2 separate regions of the Homo sapiens genome follow, and region 2 is linked to region 1. The links come from fine-mapping of genetic effects on gene expression. A gene starts in region 1. The other region holds a variant in brackets. All regions are shown on one strand. Distances are between the middles of the regions.

Region 1 (9,489 bases):
GTGCCCCTGCGTGCTCAGTCATGGGCCAGGGGCCACCCAGAGAGTGTGCTCTGCTCAAACGCTGTTGCCGGTCCCTGCGGCACGGCTGAAAGCTGGAGGCTCCCTGCACGCCTCACAGCTGAACGCAAATCCATGCTCCAGTGAAGATGGAAGTGGCGCCCCTAAGGCTGCCACAACATTTCGGAATGGTAACTTAGTATCCAGCACCCTCCAAAGGTGGCCGGTGAGGGTTTTATTTTATTTTTAGAGGCAGGGTCTCGCTCTGTTGCTCGGCTGCAATGCAGTGGCATGATCACAGCTCACTGCAGCCTTGACCTCCGGAGCTCAAGCGACCCTCCTGCCTCAGCCTCAGGAGTAGCTGAGACTACAGGCACATGCCACCACACCCAGTTTTTTTTTGTTTTTGAGACGGAGTCTCGCTCTGTCACCAGGCTGGAGTGCAGCGGTGCGATCTCAGCTCACTGCAAGCTCCTCCTCCCGAGTTCAAGCGATTCTCCTGCCTCAGCTTCCTATGTAGCTGGGAATACAGGTACGCACCACCACACCCAGCTAATTTTCGTGTTTTTAGTAGAGACGGTTTCACCATGTTGTCCAGGATGGTCTCGATCTCTTGACCTCATGATCTGCCTGCCTCGGCCTCTCAAAGTGCTGGGATTACAGGCGTGAGCCACCGTGCCCAGCATTTTTTTTTTTTCTTTGAGACAAAGTCTCACTCTGTCACCCAGGCTGGAGTGTAATGGCACAATCTCAGCTCACTGCAACCTCCACCTCCCGGGTTCAAGTGATTCTCCTGCCTCAGCCTCCTGGGTCCCTGGGACTACAGGCACCTGTCACCATGCCTGGCTAATTTTTGTATTTTTAGTAGAGATGGGGTTTCACCATGTCAGCCAGGCTGGTCTGGAACTCCCAACCTTGTCATCTGCCCGCCCCAACCTCCCAAAGTGCTGGGATTACCGGCGTGAGCCACTTCACCCGGCTCCAGATAATTTTTTTAAATTATTTTTTATAGAGCCGGGGTCTCACTATGTCGCCCAGGCTGAATGAACTCGTGGACACTAATATATTTGAAGTGCTTCAATCCACTGCAATTTACTTTTCCTTTTGATACTCAGTTGATGCTTACTTTCGCCAGTGAGAGCCCCTTCAAACTGGCAAATGGATCCTCCGAGACAAACTAGAATCTGTGTTAATTTTCCTGCTTGCTGTTATGATGAGATGTTCTGGGGTCATCTTGTATGTTTTCTGCCTCATGTCTGAAATCCGTCATTTTTCCAAGAAGCCATGGTTTCTTTTCAAGGGAAATGGCAGGAAGAAACAATGGTCTGTGTGCTCCTCGCACCGGGACTGGTGACCGTTTGTAGTCCAGCACAATCCCAGGAATGAGGGTCCTTGTTTCATGTCTGTGCTGTCCACTGGGGTAGCCACCGGCCACAGAGGACTACTCAGCACCTGCAATGTGGCTACTGCCACTGAGGAATGCAATTTTACATTTTATTTGATTTAATTTTTTTTTTGGACAGAGTTTTTGCACTGTTGCCCAGGCTAGAGTACAGTGGTACAATCTAGGCTCACTGCAACCTCCGCCTCCCGGGTTCAAGTGATTTTCCTGCCTCAGCCTCCCGAGTAGCTGGGATTACAGGTGCCCACCACCACGCCCAGCTAATTTTTGTATTTTTAGTAGAGACGGGGTTTTACCATGTTGGTCAGGTTGGTCTCGATCTCCTGACCTCAAGTGATCCATCCACCTTGGCCCTGCAAAGTGCTGGGATTACAGGTGTGAGCCACTGCGCATGGCCTGATTAAAACTTTTTAATGTGGTAAAATATACACAAAACTTAACCACCTTCCCTGTATTACTTATTTGTTTTTTCTTTTTCTTTTTTTTTTTTTTTTGAGATGGAGTCTTGTTCTGTCGCCCAGGCTGAAGTGCAGTTGCACATCTCAGCTCACTGCAACTCAAGGATTTCTTGAGGCCAGGAGTTCTACACCAGCCTGGAAAAGATAGTGAGACCTCATCTCTGCAAAAATAAAAATAAAAATGACCAGCTACACGGGAGGCTGAGGCAGGAGAATGGCATGAACCTGGGAGGTGGAGCTTGCAGTAAGCTGACATTGCGCCACTGCACTCCAGCCTGGGCGACAGAGCGAGACTCTGTCTCAAAAAATAATAATAATAAAATAAAATAGAAATGAATTAGCTGGGCATGGTGGTATACACATGTAGTCCCCGCTGCTTGGGAGGCTGAGGTGGGAGGCTCTCTTGAGCGCAGGAGGTGGAGGCTGCGGGGAGCCATGATGGAGTCGCCGCACTCCAGTCTGGGGAACAGAGCCAGACATTGTCTCTTTGAAAAAGTTACTTTCTGAGGCCAAGGCGGGCAGATCACTTGAGCTCAGGAGTTCGAGACCAGCCTGGCCAACATGGTGAAACCCCATCTCTACTAAAAATACAAAAAACTAGCCAGGCATTGAGGCTCATGCCTGTAATCTCAGCTACTTGGGAGGCTGAGGCAGGAGAATTGCTTGGATCCAGGAGGTGGAAGTTGCAGTGAGCCAAGATCACTCCATTGCACTCCAGCCTGGGTGACACAGCGAGACTCTGTCTAAAAATAAAAATAAAAAGTCACTCAAAATTATCCTTTTTTGTATGGCTAACCCCCCCACATGCCATACAATTAGGTTCATTTGTTTCATTCTGTCTCCAAGTTTTAGATGCTTTTCTATTTTGATTTATTTTTGGTTTTCTAATTACACAGTTCTATAACTGAATGTAAGCACATTTAAAGAGATCTACTTTCTATTCCTGTGTCCTTCTGCCCCAGATAGTAACCTTTTTAATGTAAAAATATATATATATTCTTATTGCCACTGCTCCTTCTTACATAAATACTATACACACTTTTCTGCATCTTGATTTTTTTTTTTTTTTGAGACAGGATCTCACTTGTCACCCAAGCTGGAGTGCAGTGACACAGTCACAGCTCAGGGCAGCATCAATCTCCCAGGCTCAAGAGGTCCTCCCACCTCAGCCTCCCGAGTAGCTGGGGCTACAGGTGTGCACCGCCATGGCCGGCTAATTTTTTTTGTATTTTTTTAGAGTCAGAGTTTCACCATGTTGCCCAGGCTGGTCTCAAACTCCTGGACTCAAGCGATCCTCCCACCTTGCCCCCCAAAGTGCTGGGATTAGAAGCGTGAGCCGCTGCACCTGGCTGGATTTTTTTTTTCTTTTTTGAGATGGGGTTCACTATGTTGCCAGGGCTGGAGTACAGTGGTACAATCATAGCTCACTGTAGCCTCAAACTCCTGGGCTTGAGCAATCCATCCTGCAGCTTCCCAAGTAGCTGGGACTACAGGCTCAAGCCACCATGCCTGGCTCAATTTTTTTTACTTAACAATATGTTCTGGAGTCACTCCACAGCAGAACATAGAAATAAATGGTCCTTATACCTTCTTTACAGCTGACCTCCATCGTGTAGCTGTTCCACAGCTTCCTTAACCAACCAGTTCCATGGACACGGGGCTGTTCTCAGGCTGTCACTGTCCTTTCCTTCTTTCCTAGACAGTATATATATATATATAGAGAGAGAGAGAGAGAGAACGAGAGAGAGAGAGAGAGAGAGAGTTGGAGTCTCGCTCTGTTGCCCAGGCTGGAGTGCAGTAGTGTGATCTTGGCTCACTGCAAACTCTGCTTCCTAGGTTCAAGTGATTCTCCTGTGTCAGCCTCTCGAGTAGCTGGGATTACAGGCATGCGCCACCACGCCCAGCTAGTTTTTGTATTTTAGTAGACAGGGGTTTCACCATGTTGGCCAGGCGGGTCTCGAACTCCTGACCTCAGGTGATCCACCTGCCTTGGCCTCCCAAAGTGCTGGGATTATAGGCGTGAGCCACTGTGCCCGGCCCTTTCCTAGAAAGTATATTAACAGTTCATTGGGAAAGGTCCAGGGAGGCAAAGTTGATAAGGAAGAAGCCCTATCATTTCCGTGGAGTCGGGAAGAAGTATAATCTCTCTTATAAAAGCGAACCTGGGCTGGTAATGGTGGCTTGGTTCTATTCCTCAGATTCTGAGGAGGAAAGCGATCTGGCACTGCGGAAGGTGGGTGAGTGCAGAGGTGCTGTGGTGTCACCCAGCTACTTTCCACAGCCATTCTCACGGGTGCTGGGCATTCTGCAAGGTGTCTTGCCTCTGATGGATCAGGTTATGGGCCAGGATAAAACCAAAGGACCTCCCAGGCCTCACTGTGGCATCAGGAGCCGGCCACCCTGCAAGCCCTACACATGGCGGGCTGAAAGACTGCCAGGGTAGGGGACGCGTCCAATTCACTCGTGAGCCCAGTTCTTGGCATAGAGTGGCCCGGTGAGAGACCACTCCCTTTCCTCACACTCCCATGTCTCCATTGCAAACGGCCCCCACGGACCAGCGGTGCGAGAAGAGGCTCCGGTGTAACAGGATGCACAGTGAGATGGGCTGGGCAGCGGGGGATGGGGACTGTGGGAAAGGCAATGGGGAACGTCGGAACCGGCTTGGCATGTTGGGCCCATCTTCCGTTTTGTTTTTTGTTTGTTTGTTTGTCTTGAGACAGAGTCTCGCTCTGTCGTTCAGGCTGGAGTGCAGTGGCGCAATCTTGGCTCGCTGCAACCTCCACCTCCCGGGTTCAAACGATTCTCCTGCCTCAGCCTCTGGGGTAGCTGGGACTGCAGGTGTGCGCCACCACACCCGGCTAATTTTTGTATTTTTAGTAGAGACAGGGTTTCACCATGTTGACCAGGATAGTCTCGAACTCCTGACCTCAAGTGATCTGCCCAACTCAGCCTCCCAAAGTGCTGGGATTACAGGCATGAGCCACTGTGCCCAACCGGGTTTTTGCTGTTTTTAATTTTGAAACAGGGTCTTGATTTCGCTCAGGCCAGAGTGTGATGGCACCATCATAGCTCACTGACTTTGCTATTTACTTTTACAATTTTTCAGTTGGAGCCTTTGCTGGAACATAACATTCAGAAGTCTTTTTTTTTTTTTTTTTTTTTTTGAGCCGGAGTCTCACTCTGTCATCCAGGCTGGAGTGCAGTGGTACGATCTTGGCTCACTGCAACCTCCTCCTCCTGGATTCAAGCGATTCTCCTGCCTCAGCCTCCTGAGTAGCTGGGATTACAGGCAGCTGCCACCATGCCCTGCTAATTTTTGTATATTTAGAAGAGACGGGGTTTCACCATGTTGGCGAAGCTGGTCTCGAACTCCTGACCTCAAGTGATCCGTCCACCTCGGCCTCCTAAATTGTTGGGATGACAGGTGTGAGCCACCGCGCCCAGCCCGATCTTCCATTTGCAAGAGAAGAGGAAAATCCCCATTTTCACGGGAAACCTCCTAGTTTTTTAGGTTGACAAACGACTCCAAACCATCATGCACCCGCCCCGGTCCTCTGGGCCAACGCGCCGGTGCTGAGCTCCTCCAGGCCCCCCAAGTCTGTCTGTCACCTCCAAGCCTTGGCCCTGGGCCAGGCCTGGCTGTCTGGGACCCCGGAGACGTCCCCGCCCCGCGGCCTGTGGCCTGGCCCTTCAGCCGCGCCTCGGGGCCCGCGACCTCCTTGCCCCGGCCCCGGCCCGCGCGGTCGGTGGTGGGTCGGACCAAACCACCCGCTCCAGCCGGGGAGCAGAACGGGCGAGGCTCCCCCTCCGGCCACGATGGAGTCTTCCGTTGCCATGGAGCTGCCCGCCCCAAACCACGCCGCCGGCGCCGCGGAGGGCAATCGCCAAGGACCGCCGCCTGCCTGAGCAGCCCGGGGTGTCTGTGCCTCCGGAGCCCGAGAACCTGGGACCCAGGCCAGCCAGAGGTGGGTGTGGGGGCGGATGCGTTTGACCCTGGGGCTGAGCTGGAAGGGTTTGACCCCCGCCCCCCAGGCAGAACTCCGTCCCATATGAAACGCCTTTCCCGGAAAGCTGTGCCAGAAAAATGACTTTGTTAATAGTTCTAGTCCCTGGTTCGTTTCAGGGAACCCCGGCGCTGGCACAGCCTCTGTTGAGGGACCCGCCCCTGACTTTGCAGCAGATGTTATAATAAAGTATTATTATAACACATTTACAAAAACATTAAACAAAAATCAAGGGCCAGCCTGTCTGGTGAACAGTTAAGACTCGTGAGTGTCTGCCTAGCTAAAAAGGAGAGCATGGTCCATAGCCCCAAAGTCATTTAGTTTTAGTATGTATAACCTAGTTTTGGAAGCTGATTTGCCTCTAGTATTTTGTTTTTCTTAAAGGAATACTCCTTTTATCTGCATAAGCCAGGTACTGAGGTAGTAAGCAGGCCTGCTGTAGGGCCCACAGTTGAAAAGAAATGGACTGATATTCTCTGCATAACGATGGTGCATAAATGCGCATGTGCGACTTAGAGATTGGTTATAAATCGAACATCAGTAGCCACTACCCAAGTTAAGAAATAGAACCTCATCAGCACCCCAAAGTCTCTCCCCCATGCCACTCACAGACCCGCTCTTCTTGACCATGGCTGACTTTTTCTTTAGTTTTACTACCTATGCATGCGTCCCTAAACAATATAGTTAACTTTCACTTATTTTAAACTTTATATAAACTTTATATTTATATAAAATTTTAAAGATGATATATAAATTTCTTTAGTTTTACTACCTATGCATGTGTCCCTAAACAATATAGTTAACTTTCACTTATTTTAAACTTTATATAAACTTTATATAAAATTTTAAAGAATATATGTGGTGTTATATAAACAATATATAATATAAATATATAGACTATATATAATGCCACATATAGTTTTATGTAAGTTTAATAATATATATTAAACTTCATATAATACTACATATATTCTTTAAATTTTTGTTTTTTTGAGACAGAGTCTCACTGTGTTGCCCAGGTTGGAATGCAGCAGGGCGATCTCGGCTCACTGCAACCTCCACCTCCTGGGTTCAAGCGATTCTCCTGCCTCAGCCTCCCAAGTAGCTGGGATTATAGCATGCCTGGCTAATTTTTGTATTTTTAGTATAGACGGGGTTTCCGCGTGTTGGCCAGGATGGTCTTGAACTCCTGATCTCAAATGATCCACCCACCTCCGCCTCCCAAAGTGCTGGAATTACAGGCGGTGAGCCACCACACCCAGCCAACTTTCATTTATTTTAAATTTTATATAAATTTATTTATATAAAATTTTAAAGAATATGTGTGGTATTATATAAGGTTTATATAAGTTTAATAATATATATAAACTTTATGTAATACCACATACATTCTTTAACATTTTTTGAAACAATCCCAAACTTGTATAAAAGTTGCAAGCTCAGCACAAAAAAACTTCTCGTGAAGGATTTGAGAGTAAGTTGCCTTCATGATGCTCTGTCGCCCCCCACCCTTGTAGAGTGTATTTTCCACAAACGAGGACATTCTCCAACACAGCCACACATGGCCCGAGTCAGGAGAGGACACAGGCCTGTTGCCGTGTTTACCCCTCAGCCTGTCAAACACGCTTTGCCAGTTGATTGCATCAGGGCCCCAGCGTGGAAGGATCCAGCCTAGAGTCACTTTGCACTGAATTCTCACATACCTCTTTATTCCCCTTCAGTCCAGAACATTCCTTGGCCTTGCTTTGGCTGTCATGACCCTGACACCTCTGAAGGTCATGGGCCAATTACTTTGGAGAAAGTCCCTCCATTTGGTTTCGTCTGCTGTGTCCTCGTGATTAGATTCCCACTGCACGTCTCGGACAGGAAAGTCGCAGAGGTGACACCGTGGCCTGTTCATTCCATCCAGTCAGTGGCTCACAGTGGTCACGTTGTCACGTTACTGATGATGTTCACTTTGAGCTCTTGATTAAGGTGGTATCTGCCAACATCTCCACTGGGAAGTTCTTTTTTCCTTCGTAATTAACAAGCATTTTGGCCGGGTGCAGTGGCTCACGCCTGTAATCCCAGCACTTTGGGAGGCTGAGGAGGGCGGATCACGAGGTCAGTAGATCGAGACCATCCTGGCTAACACGGTGAAACCGTCTCTACTAAAAATACAAAAATTAGCCAGGTGTGGTGGCGGTTGCCTGTAGTCCCAGCTACTCGGGAGGCTGAGGCAGGAGAATGGCGTGAACCCAGGAGGCGGAGTTTGCAGTGAGCCGACCCTGCGCCACTGCACTCCAGCCTGGGCGACAGAGCGAGACTCCGTCTCAAAAAAAAAAAAACAAAATGAAAAACAAAACAAAACAAAAACACAAGCATTTTGTAGGAGGTATTTGGAAGCTATGCAAATATGTCATCACTCCCAGGCTTGGCCTGGGAGGCTCTCATGGTGGACACCTTCTTCTCCTGCCTGGGCTCTGATACCCTCTGCTGGACCACACCTGGGGCCGCCCTCTTTCTTCTCAGGCTCTGACATCCAGCTCTGAGCCTCAGCCACGCACACCGGCACCCTCCTCACCCAGCCAGGCACCTGCAAACAGCTCTGAGCCTCAGCCACATACCCTCACCCTCCTCACCCAGCCAGGCTCCGACAGCCCAGCCTGGGCCACTGTGGATCCTGCTCCACCTGCCCTACCCAGGGAACCTACTGTGACAGTGAAGGGAAGGGGGAGAGGAAGAGCATCAGGCGGGCCTCTGTCTTTTTCTCCTCGGGGTTGTGCGAGAGATTCATCCACACAGTGGCACCGTGGCCATCGGGGCTGTCTCTAAGCCTCAGGACCTGAGAATATGACCTTATTTGGACTTACAGTGATGCCTGTAAGTAGCTAAGAGGAGGACATACTAGAATAGGGTGAGTGCCTCATCTGGTATGACCGGTGTCCTTATAAAAAGGAGAAATTTGGACATACAAATGCACACAGAGAGAATGTCCTATGAAGATTGGAATTTTGCTGCCACAAGCCACAGAACTAGCAGAAGCTAAAAGAGAGGCCTGAAACAGGCCCTTCCCTCGTGCCTTCAGAGGAAGCATGGCCCTGCCATCAACTCGGTTTTAGACGATGGCTTCCAGAACCGTGAGACAACTCTGTTGTTGAAGCCACCTAGGTTGTGGTACTTTGTTATGGCGACCCCGGGAAGCTAACACAACAGGTGGGATTTTCTGTAGGGTGTGCTCCTGGGAGAGGAATCGCAGAGCCAGAGGGTGCCATAGGCAGGATGATCTCCCCCTTCCCCAAAAAACCCATGTCCTGGTCCTCCGAACCCATGCGCGTGTTAGGGGACGTGGCACGTCCTTAACTGTGAAGTGCCTGTTGACGTCTTTTGCCCATTTTGCTGTGGGGCTGTCTGTCTTTATCCATTCATGGATATTCCTTACATGGTCTTGACAGTAAAATTCTGGGTTATGTGCTGTGATTGTCTTCTACTTTGTAGGTTTTCTTTTTTCTTTTTTTTGAGATGGAGTCTCGCTCTGTCGCCCAGGCTGGAGTGCAGTGGCACGATCTCAGCTCACTGCAACCTCCACCTCACCAGTTCAAGCAACTCTCCTGCTTCAACCTCCTGAGGAGCTGGGACTCCAGGCGCC
Region 2 (9,489 bases), 80 kb after region 1:
AGCGAAAGCCACTCGGTGATGGTTCTCACCCCCACACACATTACTGCAGATGCAGCTCTCCTCTCCCTCCCCTACCCTCTCCCCTCGCTCCCTCCCTACCCTCACTCCCTCCCTCCCCTACCCTCCCCCCACCCTCTCCCCCTCCCGCACCATGTCACCCCCAACCCCATACTGCACACTGCCTGTGGGCTCTGTCATGGAGGGACCCTTCTGTGGGAAGCCATTTCCAAGATGGAGGCTCCTTGGAAAGGCTGGTGTGTGCAGGGACCAGGTTAGGGTGTGGGACTCGCCCGTCAAACTCAAGGCAAGGGCAGGCTCAGCTGTCACTGCTGCCCCGAGGACAGGGGACCCAGTCCCGGCCTGTCCAGGACTCTATTCTCAGCACCTCCAATCACAGGACTGCCCCCTGCATGGCCAGAGGGTTTGGTGCTCCCGCCTGCAGCCCGCCCAGCCTCCTGGGGGACAGAGGTCAGGGAGGGGCTTCCTGAAGGGGCACGCAGCCTGAAATCTCAAGGGGGAGGTGACCTTGAGGGGAGTCCACGGGCAGAGGACGGTAGAGTGCCCGCAGGGGCTCCGGGGAGGTGGAGGGAAGTGGCAACCCCTGTGCCCACGCTGGTCTCTCCTCAGAGGTGCCTGGTCCAGGTGGCCTTCCGGCCAGTGCTGCCCGAGAAGCTGATCCGCCAGGAAGCCCTCCCACTCCTGAACAAAGAAATGGAGACCAAATCTGTGCGTGGGGCCCGGGAAGGAGGGGCGTAGGTCGGGGAAGGGCCTGTTGCAGGAACAAACTCCACCGCCTTCGAGTCCTGGGGGGCTCCGGCCACGTGCCGGGAGCACAGGGTAGACCTTTCCCAAGCAATGCACGTGTCGAGCTGTATCTGAGGTTAAAAAGCTTGCTCACCAAGACCCTCCCTTCTCTCTGGAAGGCACTGCCAGGCGGGAGCAGGGAAGGGTGGGCTCTGGAGGTGGGGGCAGTAGGGGCTGTGACCCAGGGGTGCAGCGGATGCAATGAAGGGCCCCTCCAACAACCTGGAGGCCCCGGGAGGCGCACCTGAAACACGGAGTGTCCTGCAGAATCTGCCCCACAAGTGCCGGCCCTGGAGGTGGCCTCGAGGCTCCTGCCACACTCCAGATGCACCCTTCCCAGCCTGGCTTCCTCCCACGGGTTTGCCCTTCCCGGCCTGGCTTCCTCCCAAGGGTTTGCCCTTCCCGGCCTGGCTTCCTCCCAAGGGTTTGCCCTTCCCGGCCTGGCTTCCTCCCAAGGGTTTGCCCTTCCCGGCCTGGCTTCCTCCCAAGGGTTTGCCCTTCCCGGCCTGGCTTCCTCCCAAGGGTTTGCCCTTCCCGGCCTGGCTTCCTCCCAAGGGTTTGCCCTTCCCGGCCTGGCTTCCTCCCAAGGGTTTGCCTTTCCCGGCCTGGGTTCCTCCTGGGCGTGCACTCGAGGGGAAGCACTTGCCTTCGGCCTTCCGCGGTGAAGATAGGGGAAGGCACCAGGGTGGGGACCCCGGTTCTGGCCGCCTCCTCACTCCGTGCCTCGGTTTATCCTCTGGTGAAGCAGACGCCACAGTCTGTGAGCAGCTCTGTGGGGGTCTGTGTGCCCCTCCGCACTGGCTACTGTCTTCCTCGGGCGCCGGTCGGCTTTTGCGTCCCCACATTCAATCCCAACTGCGGCTCCCGCGGTTCCCGCACTGGCCGCAGAGGAGCCACGGGGCACAGCTGGCTGTGTTTAGGGCCCTGCACAGCCCCACAGCCAGTCGCTCCCCCCACAGTTCCGAAAGAATATGGCCCCCCAGAGGAAGGACCTGCATGGACTGTCATTCTCCGTTCTTCGAGCACAGAACCGCGACAAGCTGTTCAAAGTCTCTGTCCCCCACGTCCTGGAGATGCGGAAGCGGGAGCTGAGGCCCAGGTGGGTCCAGGAGGGGCTGCCCCACCTGCTTCCCTCCAGGCCCCTCTGGTGGGACCCACTGTGGCCCCTGTAGAGTCCCCTCCCTACAGATTGCCCGGAATGACCCATGTGGCTGGAAGGACTGATGCCTTCAGACACAGCTGGATCCAGGTGCTGCCTTCCTGGGACCTACCCACCCCATTTCCCCAGGCCTGACACCCCTGCACACAGCCTCAATCCACGGGTGGGGAGCAAAGCCACCACCCCCCACCCAGCCCCCCGGGTGCAGAATGAGCCCTGGGAAAGCTCTAATGGGTGCCTGTGGCCCCGGGAAGGAACATGGCTCTCTAGCCAGGGGCCAAAGGCACCTGCCCCAACCCCTAGCCTCCAGCCACCAGCTGACGAGGACCTGAAGTGAGTGATGAGACCCCCACAGGAGCCAGAGAAGGGTGGAAAAGCCAGTTTGTCAGACACAACTGGGACAGCCACAGCTTGGGACCCTGGGACCCTGGGACCCTGAGGCAGAGCCGCAGGGGTCCGGCCTGGGCCGATGGTGGGTGGGGGCAAGGCGGGAGCGCAAGCCTCTGACTTCCTTCTAGTTCCGACGAGTACCAGGCCGCCCGAGCCACCCTGCTCAGAGCGTTCCAGGCGAAGTTTGACACATTTGTAGTTCCCTGTGTTGTTGCCAGTGGCGACATCAAAGACAGGAAGGGGTCAGAACCCCTGAGCTTCAGGTGCGGGGTGCTCTGGCCAGAACAGGGTGTGGTCAGCCGCAAACGCGCTGTCCCTCTGCTACTGCCCAACTCTGGGGCCTGGGCGGGCAGGGGGCCGCCCACCCTGCCCTCAGCATGCCCTTCCTATCCCAGCCCCCACAACACCCTGTACCTGGAGCTGTGGTGCCCGACGGTGGCACCATCTGTTGTGGTGACGTCCCATAAAGGCAAGACCATCTTTAACTTCGGCGACGTCGCTGTGGGTGAGACGCTAAGCCCCGCCCACACCTCCACCCCGGTGCCCAGGCACACCCACGCCTCCCCCAGCCCCACGGCCCACCCCTGGCAGAGACGCTCCCTGGGGCCTGGGGCTGGGGCCTGACGCTCCCTGCCCCATTTCAGGGCACCGCAGTATCAAGAAGATCTCCATCCAGAACGTCTCTCCCGAGGATCTGGCCGTGTCCTTGTCCACCCAGCTCAGGCGGCCTGCGGGGTGGGAGCGGGGACCGGGGAGGGCGTGGTAGAGCCTGCAGACACCTGTATCCCCTCCTTGACGTGGACCCTCAGCTGGACTTCTCCCTGCTGAACCCCAACGGCCCCTTTGTCCTGCTGAACCACTCCAGCCTGCTGCGTGCAGGTGGGACCCAGGTCCTGGTGCTTTCCTTCTCTCCCCACGAGAGCATCCTGGTGAGTCCCAGGCCCACCCTGGCCACACTGCGGCCCAAGGCTCCCCACACTGCAGAACAAAGGCACTGGCCGGGGCGGGCATCACCTGTGCTCAGGCCTGGGACTAAGCCTGGGTCTGCGAGCAGCCTGGCCCCCAGGCCCTCACACCAGCCGCCAAGTGAGCGGAGCTGACAGAGCCCCCCCAGAGCTGTCTCAACTCCAGCGTTGAGAACCCACTGCCCCTGAGGCAGAGCTCCCCTCGTGGCTCCAGCAGACATCGGTTCCTGGCTGAGCGATGTGGTCTCTTTAGGCTCAAGAAACACTGGACATCATCACCAAGAGAGGCACGCTCACCCTCACCCTCATGGGCACTGGCGTGGCGTCCATGATCACGTGCTCCATTGAAGGCAGCGTCCTCAACATGGGCTATGTGATTGCCGGAGAGTCTGTGTCCTCAGGCTTCAAGGTGAAGCACACGTGGGCCCTGGTGCTGGCTCCAGCCTCCCAGGAGGGGTTTCCACCAGGCAGGACTCAGGCCAGCTGTCAAAAGTGACCCGTGGGTCGGAGAGCCCGTGGGGACACAGGTGGCCCCCTCTACCCCTCCTCTACACAGCTGCCGCCTCTGCCGCCCTCTCCTGCAGGGAACCCGGGGCCTGTTTCTGGGGAGGCTGCAGATGTCCCCTAGTCCTCCCCACCTCCCTGTCCTCCTTGGCGCTCTTTGTCCCTCCTCCTCAGCCCCTGCACAGAGCTCCCCCACCCACCACCCACCCCCTGCCCTGCTGCTTGAACTCACTCCTTTGGAGCTCAGCTCAGCCACCGGGGGCAAGGGTTTGCAGCCCTCTGCAGTGAGCCGCACTGCCCTGCGTGCTCTCATGCCTCGCACTGCCCTGTGTGCTCTCATGCCTTCACACCAGCGTGTGCCCTCATGCCTTCACACCAGCGTGTGCCCTCATGCCTTTGCACCAGCGTGTGCCCTCGTGCCTTCGCGCTGCCCTGTGTGCCCTCATGCCTTCACACCAGCGTGTGCCCTCATGCCTTCACGCTGCCCCATGTGCCCTCATGCCTTCGCCCTGCCCTGCGTGCCCTCATGCCTTCGCCCTGCCCTGCGTGCCCTCATGCCTTCGCACCAGCGTGTGCCCTCATGCCTTCGCACCAGTGTGTGCCCTCATGCCTCCGCACCAGTGTGTGCCCTCATGCCTTTGGACCAGTGTGTGCCCTCATGCCTTCACACCAGCGTGTGCCCTCATGCCTTCGCACCAGCGTGTGCCCTCATGCCTTCGCACGAGTGTGGGTCCGGGAGGGACACCTGCTTCTCCGCCTGGCTCAGGGCGGGTCCTGGAGGCAGAGCCCGAGACGGGCGTTGCATGGAGAAAGGGTGCTCTAAGGAGAGGGGGTGAGGGCAGGGAGGACACAGGTGGGGACGTGGGTTCAGCTAAGCTGGGCCTGAGCGAGACTCAGGCGCCCTGGAGGACAGGTGACACCCCAGAGCTGTCCACGCACCCTAGGCAGGGAAGCCGAGCCCCGGCCTAGCAAAGGCTGATGAGAGGCTGGAAGAAGGGATGTTGGCACACAGCTCAATAAACCGCCAC[G/A]TGTGCTGGCGTCATCAGGCCACCCGGGTCCCCACTTGGGTGTGGCCTCATAGCACCAGCCAAGTCCTGGGCACCGACGACAGGAAGGGGGCAGCCAGGCAGGGGCTGGCGGGCAGTGACCGCGGCCTGCTCTCTGCAGCTGCAGAACAACTCTCTGCTCCCCATCAAGTTCTCCATGCACCTGGACAGCCTCTCCAGCACCCGGGGCCGGGGCCAGCAGCAGCTGCCGCAGTTCCTCAGCTCGCCCTCCCAGAGGACGGAGGTGGTCGGTGAGCGGGGGGTGGGGGGTGGGTGGTGAGCTGCGGGGGTGGGCGGTGAGCTGGGGGAGTAGGCAGTGGCCTGGAGGGGGACAGTTGGTGAGATAGGGGGCTGGGCAATGAGATGGGCTGCGGGCGGTGAACTGGCAGGGGCGGGTGGTGAGCTGGAGGGGGGTGGTCGGTGAGCTGGCGGGCACGGGCGGTGAGCTGGGTGGGGGGCAGTTGGTGAGGTGGGGGGTGGGCGGTGAGCTGGGGGGGTGGGCAGTGAGCTGGAGGGGGCGGTTGGTGAGATGGGGGGGGTGGGCGCTTGGATCCATGGGAGGAGTGGGGGGCGCAAGGCCATTGGGGGGACCGGGCAGGACAGGGGCTCTGCAGGGGGGCGGGCAGGGTGTAGAGCTCTATGCAGCAAGGCTTGGAGGGCAGACAGTGATTGCAGGTGGAGAAGGCCAAACTGCACCCCACCCTACCCGCAGGGACGCAGAATCTCAACGGTCAGAGCGTGTTCAGCGTGGCCCCCGTCAAGGGCGTCATGGACCCCGGGAAGACACAAGACTTCACTGTCACCTTCAGCCCCGACCACGAAAGCCTCTACTTCTCCGACAAGCTCCAGGTGGTGCTCTTTGAAAAGGTGCGGCTCTGGCTCTGCAAGCTCAGCCCGGCCCGGCCCTGGCCCCACGCAGGGCCTTGCCTTTGGCTGCACTGCTCCACTTTGGAGGCCCTGAGGGTACCATGGCTGGGGGACTCAGCACCACACTGAGGGCCGTCAGTGGAAAGACCAGAGTCCAGGGCCCCACGGGGCCCCCAGGCCGTCCCTGCTTCCTTCCCTGAGCCAGCCCAGCTCTCACCAGCAGGACCCCTGCCGCCGAGCTTCGGGGACAAGGCCACTCCACTTCTTGTCCCCAGAAAATCTCCCACCAGATCCTGCTGAAGGGTGCCGCCTGTCAGCACATGATGTTCGTGGAGGGCGGCGACCCCCTGGACGTGCCCGTGGAGTCTCTGACAGCGATCCCTGTATTTGACCCCAGGCACAGAGAGGGTGAGCCCCTCCCCAGGGAGGGAACAGACACGGGGCCTCCCGGTGCCCCTGTCCCGTGGATGGGGGCCCCGAGACCCAGCGGAGCAGGGCAGGGATTCCCAGCCTTCTACCCCAGAGCCAAGCAGGACAGCCACTGCTAACCAGAGTTCAGGAGTCCAGCTGCAGCCTCACCCCATGCCTCAGCCTGACCCTGAACAGCTCCCCTGGCCACACCCCTCCAGCCAGCTCCCGGCCAGGCCCTCTCTCTCCAGAAGCTGAGGAGCTGAGGCCCATCCTGGTGACCCTGGACTACATCCAGTTTGACACAGACACGCCAGCCCCACCTGCCACCCGAGAGCTGCAGGTGGGCTGTATCCGGACCACCCAGCCATCTCCAAAGAAGGTGCCCACAGCACTGCCCCTGGGGACACCAGGCAGCCCCCTCGGCCTCCCCTGCCCTGGGCAGCCCTGACCCTCCTGGCCTTGCCCCTCACTGGGCTTGTCCTGACAGCCGGGCTTTTCTCGGACTTCCTGTGGCAGCTGTGGGGTGGGCAGCCTGGTCAGAGCTGGGAGGGTGAGTGGAGCTGGGCACCCTCACCCCTAGTCCCACTGCTTCTGGGAGCGGTGCCTGGTCGCCAGCCTACAGGAGCCCCATACCCCACAGACCGTTGAGTTCAGCATAGACAGCGTCGCATCCCTGCAGCACAAGGGTTTCTCTATTGAGCCCTCCAGGGGCTCCGTGGAGCGCGGCCAGACGAAGACCATCAGCATCTCCTGGGTGCCACCTGCGGACTTTGATGTAGGTGCCTTTGGGCTCCAGGCCAGGGAGCCCTGGGAACGCCAAAGGCTGGGTGGGCTGACACCCCTGCCCAGTCCCAGGGGAGGAGGTGGCCGTGGAGGACCCAAGGGAGTCAGGTGGGCAGGGCAGTGGGAAGACAGCAGATCTCCTCTGGGTGCCCACTGACTGAAGGCCTCTTCTCCCCTCCCCTCCTGTTCCAGCCAGACCACCCACTCATGGTGTCGGCCCTGCTGCAGCTAAGGGGGGATGTGAAGGAGACCTACAAGGTCATCTTTGTAGCCCAGGTGTTGACTGGCCCCTAAGCCTCTGCACAGAGCACCCTCGGGCCCTCCTGTCCACCCTCAAAGCCCTCCCCAGGCTGAGGGCCAGGTCATACTACCCTAGAGCCTGGGACCTGGCCATCCTCTGCCAGATTCCAATAGGCCGCCCTCCACATGGCGCCACGGCCACTTCCTGCTGCCCTGGACCCCGCAAGCCCAGGGACATCCAAGAGCACCCCTCCTGAGACCCCAGACTCAGAAGCAGCGAGAAGGCCAGGCCAGCCCTCAGCCATCCTAGCCAGACCCCCTCAGAGCCCCCAGCCCCCAGGAGAGCCCTCCACAGCCTGTCAATAAATTTTTTGTAGGCCAACACATGCAGCCTGCAGTGTGGGTGACAGCAGGTTATTCCCTGGGGTGAGCACAGAATGGGAGGTGGGGACAGAGCCCTGGGGAAGCAGCCCCTCCCCTCACAGCCATGACACCCGCTTTGCCTGGCAAGGGCCTCCTAGAGTGGGGCCATCCTGCAGGACACCTGTGGGGAGGCCACCCTGACCCAAATTCAAGGAGAGCCCCCAAGCCTGGCACCCTGAGCAGCAGCAGGCAGCCCAGAGGGCCGGGGTACAGCTAGAGCTGAGGCTGACCCAGAACCGAGGGGCCTGGGTGGTGGGGAGGGCAGGGCTGCAAAGCCCAGGGCAGGCCCCGGGAACCTCCAGACTTTTCCCAAGTTCCAGGACCCCGGATGACCCCAAGCAAAGGTGAGCAGACGGTGGGGACCCCCCAGCCTACTCATGCCCTCCCCTCCACCCAGCAGGGGCCAGGTGAGGCCCAGCTCCTGCACTGAAGTCTCTATTTGTCTGAGATAAGTCTGGGCTCGGCTTTCTGGGCTCTGACCCACCCTTCAACAGAGAAGACCCCTCGCAGCCCGTGAGATGCTCCTGAAGCTCAGAGTGGTGCCTGCACCCCAACCCTGCCCTCTGGAGTCTGGCTTGTTGGACGCTGTCCCCACAGAGCCCACCCAGCCTGGCCCTCCTGTCAGTGCAGCACACCCACTGTGCCACCCCAACCAGCAGCCACCAGCAGACTGTACGCAGCCTTCCCTGGCCGGGTCGGGGGAGCAGATGGTGCTTCTGGGAGCTTTCCTGGGCACAGGCCTCAGGGACGCCGGTCTTGAGCTGCCTGCCCTCACCCCCAGCCCCCCAGGGCCCACAGTGCCTAGGAACTTGCCATTGCCCCAAACTTCAAGCCAGTGACATTGACCCCGCAGTGGCGTTTTGCAGGATTTCTGTCCAATGGGTCCCTTGCTGCCCTTCCTGCGGCCGACCCACCATGGCTCAAGCTTGCGCCACACCAGATGGGAGGGGAAGGCAGGTTCCGCCAGGTCCAGGCCAGGCCCCGGCCGCAGGAGGAGGTGCTACTGGATGGCAATGTTTCCTGAATAGGCCCCTCTCTTCTAAACCCTGACCCGACTCTCCTGCTGGCAGGCCTCTGGTACTGAGTGGCGAGGCCCGCCCAGCTCCTGCGTGGGGGCCGTGCCCACACCTTCCGGAACTCGGGGCTGTGGCCTCAGGCTGTGCTGTGCACATGCACTCCCATTCCCACTCCCGTGCTGGGCCTCCACGACCAGTGCAGTCAATGTGGCAGGAAGAAGGGCCAGGGGCTGGGGGAGCTGGGCAGGCAGGAAGGGCCCTTGAGGACCGTGGCACAGGCCTTGGGAGGTGAAAGGCAACTTCAGGCAGAGCCCAACAGTGGAAGGAGTGATGCAGTGAAGGGGCAGGTATGGGCAGAAGAGCCACGCAGAGGAGGCCCTGCCCTCCAGGGTCACTGCCCTTGTGGTAGGGGTGGGGGACACTGAGCAGCGCCCACATGTGGAACAGTTCTGAGCAAGGGGTGCATGCCCCTCCTGCAGTAAGATGGACCCTGCCCCTTGCTGTGCTGACCACCTCCCTTAGCCTGACCACCAGAGAGACGGTGTGCTGTTGGTCCCACGGGGAGCAGAGGGCACCAAGAGCCTAACAGGGCCCCTGGCCTGGTGGCAGAGGGATAAGGGTCTGGGGTCCCCCTGGAAGAAATGGCCCCAGGCCTGCCCCTGCACAGGGAGCAGCAGACATTGCAGGCTGAGGGAAGGGCACTGGGCTCCCTGTGGCCCTCGGGAATGGAGGTCACATTCCCCAGGTGGGGCATGGCCCCCAAGGCCAAGTGCTTTGGGAAAGTGGTCTGCACCCAGCGCCTCAACAGCCCAGAGCCAGGGCCAGGCTCCAGCCCCCTGGGCCAGCCCCCAGACAGCGCCTGCAGCGCAGGTCCACAATCA

What was found. PIP is the estimated chance that this variant, and not a neighbour inherited with it, causes the effect. A credible set is the group of variants that fine-mapping cannot tell apart.
Region 2: its variant is the best candidate, but not a certain one, in a credible set for the expression of CFAP74 in prefrontal cortex (BrainSeq, PIP 0.84).

What each region holds. Positions count from the first base shown.
Region 1 is chr1:2,000,034-2,009,522 of GRCh38, reverse strand. It overlaps CFAP74 (cilia and flagella associated protein 74), which reads left to right and starts at 5,737. Exons shown (of 39, transcript NM_001304360.2): 1 at 5,737-5,822. RefSeq lists a silencer at 5,579-5,873.
Region 2 is chr1:1,920,021-1,929,509 of GRCh38, reverse strand. It overlaps CFAP74 (cilia and flagella associated protein 74), which reads left to right. Exons shown (of 39, transcript NM_001304360.2): 27 at 628-726; 28 at 1,764-1,903; 29 at 2,482-2,616; 30 at 2,749-2,858; 31 at 2,998-3,053; 32 at 3,163-3,282; 33 at 3,572-3,727; 34 at 4,990-5,119; 35 at 5,581-5,735; 36 at 6,011-6,143; 37 at 6,365-6,525; 38 at 6,787-6,921; 39 at 7,122-7,553. The coding sequence ends at 7,223. Among named protein-coding and RNA genes, the nearest start is that of TMEM52, 5.5 kb to the right of the region's middle. RefSeq lists enhancers at 5,668-6,168, 8,867-9,459, 9,460-9,489 and a silencer at 7,069-7,253. The variant G/A (reference allele first, on the strand shown) is at 4,851.